Homo sapiens: one gene and its partners. The protein of the gene in region 1 interacts with the protein of each later gene in a biochemical or structural test. Each region holds a gene or a part of one and is shown in the gene's direction. Other genes may lie near its edges. The genes, in order: STK4, MAP1LC3B and SIRT1.

Region 1 (3,673 bases):
AGAAGATCAAAACTCTTTCTCAAAAAAAAAAAAAAAATCCTTCTTTTGCTAAAGCATAGGAACTGTAGGGAGGTTCTCTTTCAGTAGGGCCATGCCATCCTGAGAAAGTATGCAAGTGGTTATTTGCTGTAATGTGTACTGTATCCACATATTCTTCTTTAGCCCATAAACTAAGATATTTTGTATATTATTTTTTATATATCAAGTTTAAAATTTTTTTATTGCACATGTATGCTCATATAAACCTTCAGAATGTTACAGATGTATACAGGATAGACAGTAAAAATCTTTAGTGATTCTGCCTACTAGATATAATTAATGGTTTGGTGTGTATTACTCCAGATTTTTTGTGCTATGATATAACAGTGTTTCATATTATTGGTTATTGTTTTATTATTGTTATGATCATCATTATTATATATATTTTCCTTTTACAAAAACAGGGCTATATTATATATAATTGTACAACTTTTTTTTGCTTTGTAATGTATGTTGTGCATTTTTTTCATGCTAGGAAAAGGTATATATCTTCTTTTTTTTTTCTTTTTAATATGGTGTTTCAGTATATGGTTATTTATTATATTTAACTTACTATCTTTTGATGATCATTTGAGTTGTTTCCTTTTCCTCCTCATCTCCCCCATTACAGACATTTCTACAGTCTTTGTGCATATCGTTTGAGATACTTGAACATAAGATAGATTTCAAGAAATAGATTTGGATCAAAGGATATGAATATTTAAAAGTTGAATAAATATTGCCAACTTATGTACTAAAATGTACCAATTTATACTACAGTAACATTTTATTTCGGTGCCTGATTTTCTATGCTATTATCAGCATTAATTATTAATTTAAAATTTTTTGTCAGTCATTTTAGTTTTTGTTTTAATAATTGATTGAGAATCTTTTTGTGTTTCTTTGTCATTTGAATTTCTTCTATGCCTGCTTGATCATGCTCAGAGTATGGTTTTTATATGTATTTCAAGTACAAGGCATTTTTTTATTGTTGGAAAAGCCTCTTTTTCTCAGTAGTTTTTTTTTTTTTCTTCTTTTTTTCTCTGTAGACTTCCTCTGTGGACATCTCAGTAGTTTTAAGCTTAGTGTCAGTCTCTCTCCCTTTCTATTTTAGGATACCATGGCCAAGCGGAATACAGTGATAGGAACACCATTTTGGATGGCTCCAGAAGTGATTCAGGAAATTGGATACAACTGTGTAGCAGACATCTGGTCCCTGGGAATAACTGCCATAGAAATGGCTGAAGGAAAGCCCCCTTATGCTGATATCCATCCAATGAGGGTAAGAAAGTGGACAGAAAGCCAGTGGGGTGGTTAGTTACTGATCATCATTAAAAAGTGAAGTTCAAGCCAGGTGTTGTGGCTCACACGTGTAATCCCAGCACTTTGGGAGGCTGAGGTGGATGGATCACCAGAGGTCAGGAGTTTGAGACCAACCTGGCCAACATGGTGAAACCTTGTCTCTACTAAAAATACAAAAATTAGCTGGGTGTGGTGGCGTGCGCCTGTAATCCCAGCTGCTTGGGAGACTGAGGCATGAGAATCACTTGAACCCCAGAGGCAGAGGTTGCAGTGAGCTGAGATCGTGACACTGTACTCTAGCCTGGGAGAGAGAGTGAGACTCCATCTCAAAAAAAAAAAAAAAAAAAAAAAAGTTCAATGGCTTACTTGTTTAAGTTGCAAACAATAAATGAATTATGTGTAAATTTGTAAGTGTCGCTATAGATGATACACCTCTACTGACTCTAGTTGTAGTCATTAATTAATTTAAGTGTGTTCCACCCCTCTCCATTCCAGAGGTTGTGTATTGATAGCCCTCTGGCAGGACATAGGCCATAGAAATGCTTAGTTTGATTTGTGCTACTCTCTCTCTCTGTCTGTCACTCACTCATTTTGAATAGTTTAGACAACCACATTTTAACATGTCAACATTCACTAGAGCTGAGTAGTGGTTCAGAGTATGAACTCTCTACTTTATCAGTCTCCATGATTCCCTGTTGTGTCACCAAGTATTAGCTGCCACTTATTACAGTATTTCTCTAATGTTTTTCTTATAATAGTGTTAAGAAGAAAGCAAACTGTATTTTTGAACTCATGTCACTGAAACCCAGCCTTGTTCATTTTTTATCTTTCTTCTGCCTGGCCCCTATAGGTGTTTTGAATTTGTAAGTTTTGGTTTGTAGATCCCCATATCCTCTTCATCTGGAGGCTGTGTACTCTCCAACCCCTGTCTCCTTCTAGAATGTTAAGGGCCCATAGAATGCATCTCCAGTGAAGCTCTTCCAGTGCTCACACCCTAAGCAGTTCCCAGGCTTAACTGTCCCAGAACCCTTCATCACAGCACTGTTGTAATACACCCCCCCGCCAACCCTGCCTTCCTCAGGGGCTCTGTGGTCCTCTCCATCCTTCCTTACCACAGCTCTTCCTCTTCTCTGACTAATTAATTCTCCTATTAAAAGACTTACACAAATTCATGTTCCCAAGGTAAGTCCTCCCTCTTTTTTGGGAGAAGGAGTGAGGAGATTTACTAGTTACAATTTTAGATTTAAAGAATATAATTTAAGCTGCTTATTTGTATAGTGTTTTACTTTTCAAAAAACATGGCTTTTTTAAAATTGGAAATTTAATAAATAATAGTCTTATTTTTGGACATAGTAGAATGTAACTGCAACGTAGTGGGCCAATTTTTAATTTTTCCCCCTCACACATGCGTTGATTTAGCTTACTTTGGAAGTTAATGACCCCATTGTGATTTTTGGGACTTCTGGTTGATGACCTTATTGTGTAGTTGCTGCTGACATCTGGGGGTGGTAATAACTTTTAAGAGGCAGGGAAACTTGACAACTATGGGGTCAAGGTTATCTTTAGGATGTAGATACTCTTAGGTCTCGCCTTTCTACTTTGAAAGGCAATGTACTGTGGTTACCAAAATAATAATAATAAAAAAGCTTGATTGATGTTGTGAGGTTTAGGGAACAAGACCCATATATGAGAGAGGGAAAAGGAGAGAGGGAGATATATCAGGTTCTTTAACCATCAGATGCTTAGACTTTTGTTGGAATTTGGGTGAGCTTCTCAGTGGGTAAGTGAAAAATCATTTACCAAGCTTCAAATGTAATTCCACATGTATTTTTTATTGGAGCATTACTTTTATTTTACCAGATCTTTTTGTTTGTTTGTTTGTTCTAACCAGGCAATCTTCATGATTCCTACAAATCCTCCTCCCACATTCCGAAAACCAGAGCTATGGTCAGATAACTTTACAGATTTTGTGAAACAGTGTCTTGTAAAGAGCCCTGAGCAGAGGGCCACAGCCACTCAGCTCCTGCAGGTATGAATCACCCTGTGATGCCATCTCGCTCCATTTCATTTACTTGCTGACCAAAAGATGCCATGAGGTCACCTACGTGGAGATAGTAAAGAAGTATAAGGCAGGCTGGGTGCAGTGGCTCACGCCTGTAATCGTAGCACTTTGGGAGGCTGAGGCAGGTATATTGCTTGAGCCCAGGAGTTTGAGGCCAGCCAGCATGGTGAAACCATGTCTCTACAAAAAGAATGCAAAAAATTAGCCAGGTGTGGTGGCGCATGCCTGTAGTTCCAGCTACCTGGAAGGCTGAGGTGGGAGGTGGGAGAATCTCTTGATCCCAGGAGGTTG
Region 2 (3,112 bases), on another chromosome or scaffold:
TTATGAAACTTACAGTTAAATCTTTAGTTCTGGTTAAAATCTTTAAAAAATATTTTTCAGCTGAATTCAGTTCTGATTCAGTTATGATTAAAACAATTTCAACTTAAACTATAAAATGTTTCTTTTTTTGAGGTTTTATATTACTTGCTAGACTGCAGAGCCCGTTTCTTTCATCATAACATCGTTTAGATGTTTCCTGTTTAAAATCAGTGTTACAAGTTATTAAGGTATTGTACAGCAAAGCTAGTTAAAGAGAATGTAGACTCTGTGAGTGGCAGTAAATGGCACAGGCTTAGATCTTAGAATAGTTCAGAAACTGTATTTGAACTGCTTTCTTATATTAGACAGTTTAACAGCTGTTCAGACAGTATACTAGTTTAAAATCAGCCTAATATGTAATCTTTCAGTGATTATAGCTCATGTCAATATAATCAAAGGAAGTGTCCTGTGCTTTATGAGAAGTATTGGATTCAAGAGCATTTAGAACATTTTTATATTTTACCGATCAGAGTGGGTGATATTTTAACACATGCTTCATCCTTCTTGTATTGTTGTCAATATTTCTTCACGTTGTTTTCTTTCAATAGAAGGCGCTTACAGCTCAATGCTAATCAGGCCTTCTTCCTGTTGGTGAACGGACACAGCATGGTCAGCGTCTCCACACCAATCTCAGAGGTGTATGAGAGTGAGAAAGATGAAGATGGATTCCTGTACATGGTCTATGCCTCCCAGGAGACGTTCGGGATGAAATTGTCAGTGTAAAACCAGAAAAAATGCAGCTCTTCTAGAATTGTTTAAACCCTTACCAAGGAAAAAAAAGGGATGTTACCAACTGAGATCGATCAGTTCATCCAATCACAGATCATGAAACAGTAGTGTTCCCACCTAGGAGTGTTAGGAAGTTGTGTTTGTGTTTCAAGCAGAAAAACTGAGCTCCAAGTGAGCACATTCAGCTTTGGAAACTATATTATTTAATGTAGGCTAGCTTGTTTTCAAATTTTAAAAGTTTAAAAATAAAATACTTTGCATTCTAAGTTGCCAATAAAATAGACCTTCAAGTTATTTTAATGCTCTTTTCTCACTAATAGGAACTTGTAATTCCAGCAGTAATTTAAAGGCTTTCAGAGAGACCCTGAGTCTTCTCTTCAGGTTCACAAAACCCGCCGCCTTTTTGGGTAGAAGTTTTCTACTCAGCTAGAGAGATCTCCCTAAGAGGATCTTTAGGCCTGAGTTGTGAAGCGCAACCCCCGCAAAACGCATTTGCCATCACAGTTGGCACAAACGCAGGGTAAACGGGCTGTGTGAGAAAACGGCCCTGACTGTAAACTGCTGAAGGTCCCTGACTCCTAAGAGAACCACACCCAAAGTCCTCACTCTTGCAGGGGTAGACATTTCTGGTTTGGTTTGTTCTCTAGATAGTTACACACATAAAGACACCACTCAAAAGGAAACTTGAATAATTTATAATTTTGATCGAGTTTCTTAAAAGACCCTGGAGAAAGAGTGGCATTTCTTCTGTTTCAGGTTTTGTCTGAGTTCAAACTAGTGCCTGTGTTGTTACGGAAAGCAGCAGTGTACCAGTGTCACTCTGGAGTACAGCGGGAGAAACACAAAATAGTATAACTGAAAACATTAACATTCAGACACACTCCCTTCTGCCTTCCGGCTTAAAGCTGTGGATGATCCACGTTTTTGTTTTTTTAATGTTAAATGTGTAACTCAGTATTACTGAAAAGGTACCCACATTTTGAATAGTAGTTATCACTCTTAGGTCAGACAGCCATCAGAATTCTCCCACACCAAGTGCATGTCAGTTGTGGAGAAAACATAGCAAAAAGAGCCGTACGCTCTTTACAGATACTAATGTCAAGAGTTAAACCTCCTCAGGTTCAACCTGTGATAAAAGACTAGTGCTTCCCAGTACTTGCATGGGGTTCACTATTTATAGTTTTCTTGGGAGTATCACAGGAAAATCACAATTACACCACTTTAGACCCTATGTGTAGCAGGTCACAACTTACCCTTGTGTGTTTAGATGTGTATGAAATACCTGTATACGTTAGTGAAAGCTGTTTACTGTAACGGGGAAAACCAGATTCTTTGCATCTGGGCCCTCTACTGATTGTTAAAGGAGTTCCTGTCACCTGCTCCCCCCACCCCCGCATGCGTCTGTCCACTTGGCTAACTTTTAATATGTGTATTTTTACATTATGTATATTCTTAACTGGACTGTCTCGTTTAGACTGTATACATCATATCTGACATTATTGTAACTACCGTGTGATCAGTAAGATTCCTGTAAGAAATACTGCTTTTTAAGAAAAAAAATAACATGCTGAGGGGTGACCTATATCCCATGTGAGTGGTCACTTTATTTATAGGATCTTTAAAACATTTTTAATGAACTAAGTTGAATAAAGGCACAATTAAAAACTGTCATCAAAGCCCAGTTTAATGGGATTCCGTATTTGAGACTTGGATCCCACACTGTTTGTACTTTCCAAAGCCAAGCGGGTCCTTGTATTTCCAAGGAGGGGCATCCAGGCTGGTCCTCTCGTGCAGAGGGGGCACTCACGTGGATGAGCATTGCCCTCCGAGGGCCTCTGCCTTGTCAAGGGCACCCTCCACCTTGGCCAAGGCCCTGCCACCAGGTCTGGCCTTTACAAAGCCAAGTCCTCTTGAGAACTCACGTGCCACGGGCTATCAGGATGGATGCGAATTGACCTACATGTTTTGTGGGACTATAACACCCAACAACCTACTGCTGTAAACCACCCACCACCATAAGTATTTATTAGGTATGTGTGTGTGGTCGAGAAAGTGTACCCTTGGGGGACCCAGTGGGGAGCTGCTGGCATCGTGTACAGATGCAGCACACACACACTTCAGCACTCAGACCAGACAAAAAGTGGCCAACCTCATCATCTAGGGAACTCTGAGCCCAGCTCCCGTTTAAGTAGGCACCTAAAAGTCTGTTGAAAAATACAAGGGAGTGACCTGAGAAAACTGCCTTCCCAGGCCAGCTGCTCAATAGAAGCGTCTGCGTCCCTTGTCCCGTCTTCGGAGCTCCCCGTGGGTGCTGTAGCCCCACTCACTTCCCTGACATCACCAG
Region 3 (3,623 bases), on another chromosome or scaffold:
CCAGAAATATGTCCTGTGTGCTTAGCAATATATGGAGGTAATCATGTCATTACGAAAGAGGAAGAATAGTATATTAAAATGGAGTCATTGGTCGGGTGCAGTGGCTCATGCTTGTAATCCCAGCACTTTGGGAGGACGAGGTGGGTCGATCATTTGAGGTCAGAAGTGAGACCAGCCTGGCCAACATGGCAAAACCCCGTCTCTCTTAAAAATACAAAAATTAGCCTGGCATGGTGGCATATGCCTTTAATCTCAGCTGCTTGGGAGGCTGAGGCAGGAGAATTATTTGAACTCGGGAGGTGGAGGTTGTAGTGAGCTGAGATCATGCCACTTCACTCCAGGCTGGGCAACAGAACAAGACTCCATCTCAAATAAATAAAATGGAATCATTTTATTTGACAAATGTCTATTTTTTTTTGAAAGGATCAATTCCCATTTAGTGTATATACACACATTATGTTTTTCCTCTTAATATATGATGGACTCTTCAATGTCAAGTGTTTTTCTACATAGATATTATAACAAGAGCATAGTATTTCATTGTTTCATAGTATGTTAATAAACTACCCATCATTGACAGTTGCTGTTTATCCATAGCTTTTCTGTTTTGTTTTTTTTTTAATAATTCTGAAATGTATTCTTAGAGGTATGGAAATGTTGACTATTTCTAACTTGGGCTTACTCTTTGCTTCTCTACCTCAACCAAAATCTGAAAATATGTAGGTAGTTCCTCGATGTCCTAGGTGCCCAGCTGATGAACCGCTTGCTATCATGAAACCAGAGATTGTGTTTTTTGGTGAAAATTTACCAGAACAGTTTCATAGAGCCATGAAGTATGACAAAGATGAAGTTGACCTCCTCATTGTTATTGGGTCTTCCCTCAAAGTAAGACCAGTAGCACTAATTCCAAGTAAGTTGGTGATGGTTTTTGGAGAACATTTCTATATATAATGTCATGGGTTGTGGGTCTGTATAATAGACGCTAGTAATCTTAACTCTGCTTCTGTTTGAAAGAGTGGTGAAGAGCTAATTTTAGAAATTGTTTGTTTGTTTGTTTATTGAGATGGAGTTTCCCTCTTGTTGCCCAGGCTGGAGTGCAGTCGCATATCTTGGCTCACTGCAACCTCCGCCTCCCGGGTTCAAGCGATTCTTCTGCCTCAGCCTTCTGAGTAGCTGGGATCACAGGCGTCCACCAACATGCCTGGCTAGTTTTTGTATTTTTAGTATAGACCGGGTTTCACCATGTTGGCCAGGCTGGTCTCGAACTCCTCAGCTCAGGTGATCCGCCTGTCTCTGCCTTCTAAAGTGCTGGGATTACAGGCATGAGCCCCCATGCCTGGCCAGAAATTCTTTATTTTTAGTAGAGATGAGGTCTTGTTGTGTTGCCCAGGCTGGATTCGAACTCCTGGGCTCAAGTGATCCTCCTGCCTCAGCCCCTTGAGTAGCTAGGATTACAGGCACGAGCCTCCACATCTGGCTGAACTGTTTTTTTAGGTGGCATTGTTCATTGAGACTGGTGAATCTGACATTTTGATGGGGGGTGGAGGGTTGTCAAAACGCAAGTAATGTTGGTGGCTCGTGCCTGTAATCTCAGCACTTTGGGAGGCCGAGGTAGGTGGATCGCTTGAGGGCAGCAGTTTGAGACCAGCCTGGCCAACATGGTGAAACCCTGTCTCTACTAAAAATACAAAAATTAGCTGGGCATAGTGGTGTGCACATGTAGTCCCAGCTACTTGGGAGGTTGGGGCATGAGAATCGCTTGAACTCAGGAGGCAGAGGTTGCAATGAGCCGAGAATGTGCCACTGCACTCCAGCCTGGGTGACAGAGTGGGACTCTGTCTCAAAAAATCAAAAACAAACCCAGAAGTAATGCTAAACTCTACTTCTAATTTATGTGAAAAATTAAGACAAAGGTAGAGTTCAACTTAGACTTTTTGGTGGAATGTGTTTTTAATGTTGCAAGGGTTAGCATCAATTAATTTATGAAATGGTCCTTTATCCTTATATTTTTTGATTACAGTTTTGATCTTTCAAATTTAATTGATTTCACATTTAATAAATTCAAATGTATAGTTTGGTAGAAGTGTAACATACCATGTAAGATGGAATTTGGGGGCTCAGAATGATTGGTTCATTCTTGTAGTAACAGCCATGCCATAACGGTGATATGTCGATATAGTTTACCCAAAAGGGTGTGTATATAAAAGTGTTCACATAAAATTTAAATCCTTATTACTCTCAGGAAAATTTCTTTGTCATATATATTCTCATACTGTCTGTTTCCTCCTCTAGTTTAGAATCAGAGGAGGAGAGAGAGAGATTTCAGTTGCATCAGATGTGTCCTTTCATAAGTGAGGGAAAGAGGAGAGGAAAAATATTAAATCCCTAGCCAGAGAATTGAATTAGACCCCACATCAGCAGTCAAGGCAGCCAGAGTAAACAGTTGGAAGAAACATGGAGTCAAGCTCTTCAATTTTGTGTCTATCCCATATCTCGTGGCTTTAGCAGTTAACTCAGTCTTACCTAATTAGCTGTGAAATTCTGTTAAAGTAGAATACAAGACAATTTGCAATTAAATGAAACATGAAAATTTAATATACAAATCTCTTTGTTCTTGAGTTGCTCTTCTTAAAGCAAAATCAAAGGCACTCTGCTTAAAAGCTTTTCTTTTTATTTTTTAGAGACGGGTGTCTTGCTGTAGCTCAGGCTAGAGTGCAGTGGTGCAGTTTCAGCTCACTGCAGCCTTCAACTCCTGGGGACAAGCAGTCCTTCCACTTCAGCTTCCTGAGTAGTTAGGACCAGAGGCGCACACCATGCTTGGCAAATTTTTAAATTTTTTTTTGTAGAAACGGGATTCACTTTGTTGCCCAGGCTGGTCACAAACTCCTGGCCTCAAGTGATCCTTCCTCCTCTGCCTCTCAAAGCATTAGGATTACAGGCATGAGCTACCATGCCTGGTCCTTAAAAACTTTTCTTTCAAAAGCTTTCTGTGGGATAGTATGATGTGTTGCAAAGATAATTAAAAAAAGAAACAGGTTTATAATAGCGTAGAATATGTTTATATGACTTTTTCCCTCCCCCCCTCCCCTCCCTCCCTCCCTTCCGTTTGTCCTTCCTTCCATTCATCCTTCCTTCTGTTAGTCCTTCCTTCTGTCCATCCTTCCCGTCCGTTCTTCCTTCCTTCCTTCGTCCATCCTTCTGTCTGTCCTTCCTTCCGTTCATCTGTCCGTCCTTCCTTCCTCCCACCCTCCCTCCCTCCCTCCTATCCTCCCTCCCTCCCTCATTGCCCAGGCTGGAGTGCAATGGCATGATCTCGGCTCACTGCAGTCTCCCGTGTTCAAGCAGTTCTCCTCCCAAGTAGTTGGGATTAGAGGCATGCGCTACCACACGCCCGGCTAATTTTGTGTTTTTAGTAGAGATGGGGTTTCACCATGTTGGTCGGGTTGGTCTTGAACTCCTGACCTCAGGTGATCCGCCTGCCTCGGCCTCCCAAAGTGCTGGGATTACAGGCGTGAGCCACTGTACCCAGCTCACCTTCTTTATATCAGGAGCTACTTAAGTAGAACATTTATGTACCAAGAACTCTTCTGTGCACTTGACTAACTCATTTAATCCTCACCACA

Evidence for each region.
Region 2: the proteins of STK4 (region 1) and MAP1LC3B form a complex in vitro, tested with the Homo sapiens proteins (2 studies listed by BioGRID and IntAct, with this or other methods).
Region 3: of the proteins of STK4 (region 1) and SIRT1, one has a biochemical effect on the other in vitro, tested with the Homo sapiens proteins (one study listed by BioGRID).

What each region holds. Positions count from the first base shown.
Region 1 is NC_000020.11:44,993,958-44,997,630, forward strand, and holds part of STK4 (serine/threonine-protein kinase 4), read left to right. Parts: intron 1-1,132; coding exon 1,133-1,300; intron 1,301-3,211; coding exon 3,212-3,349; intron 3,350-3,673. UniProt on the Homo sapiens protein: Stress-activated, pro-apoptotic kinase which, following caspase-cleavage, enters the nucleus and induces chromatin condensation followed by internucleosomal DNA fragmentation.
Region 2 is NC_000016.10:87,402,336-87,405,447, forward strand, and holds the end of MAP1LC3B (microtubule-associated protein 1 light chain 3 beta), read left to right. Parts: intron 1-587; coding exon 588-762; 3' UTR 763-2,439; downstream 2,440-3,112.
Region 3 is NC_000010.11:67,908,533-67,912,155, forward strand, and holds part of SIRT1 (NAD-dependent protein deacetylase sirtuin-1), read left to right. Parts: intron 1-723; coding exon 724-910; intron 911-3,623. UniProt on the Homo sapiens protein: NAD-dependent protein deacetylase that links transcriptional regulation directly to intracellular energetics and participates in the coordination of several separated cellular functions such as cell cycle, response to DNA damage, metabolism, apoptosis and autophagy.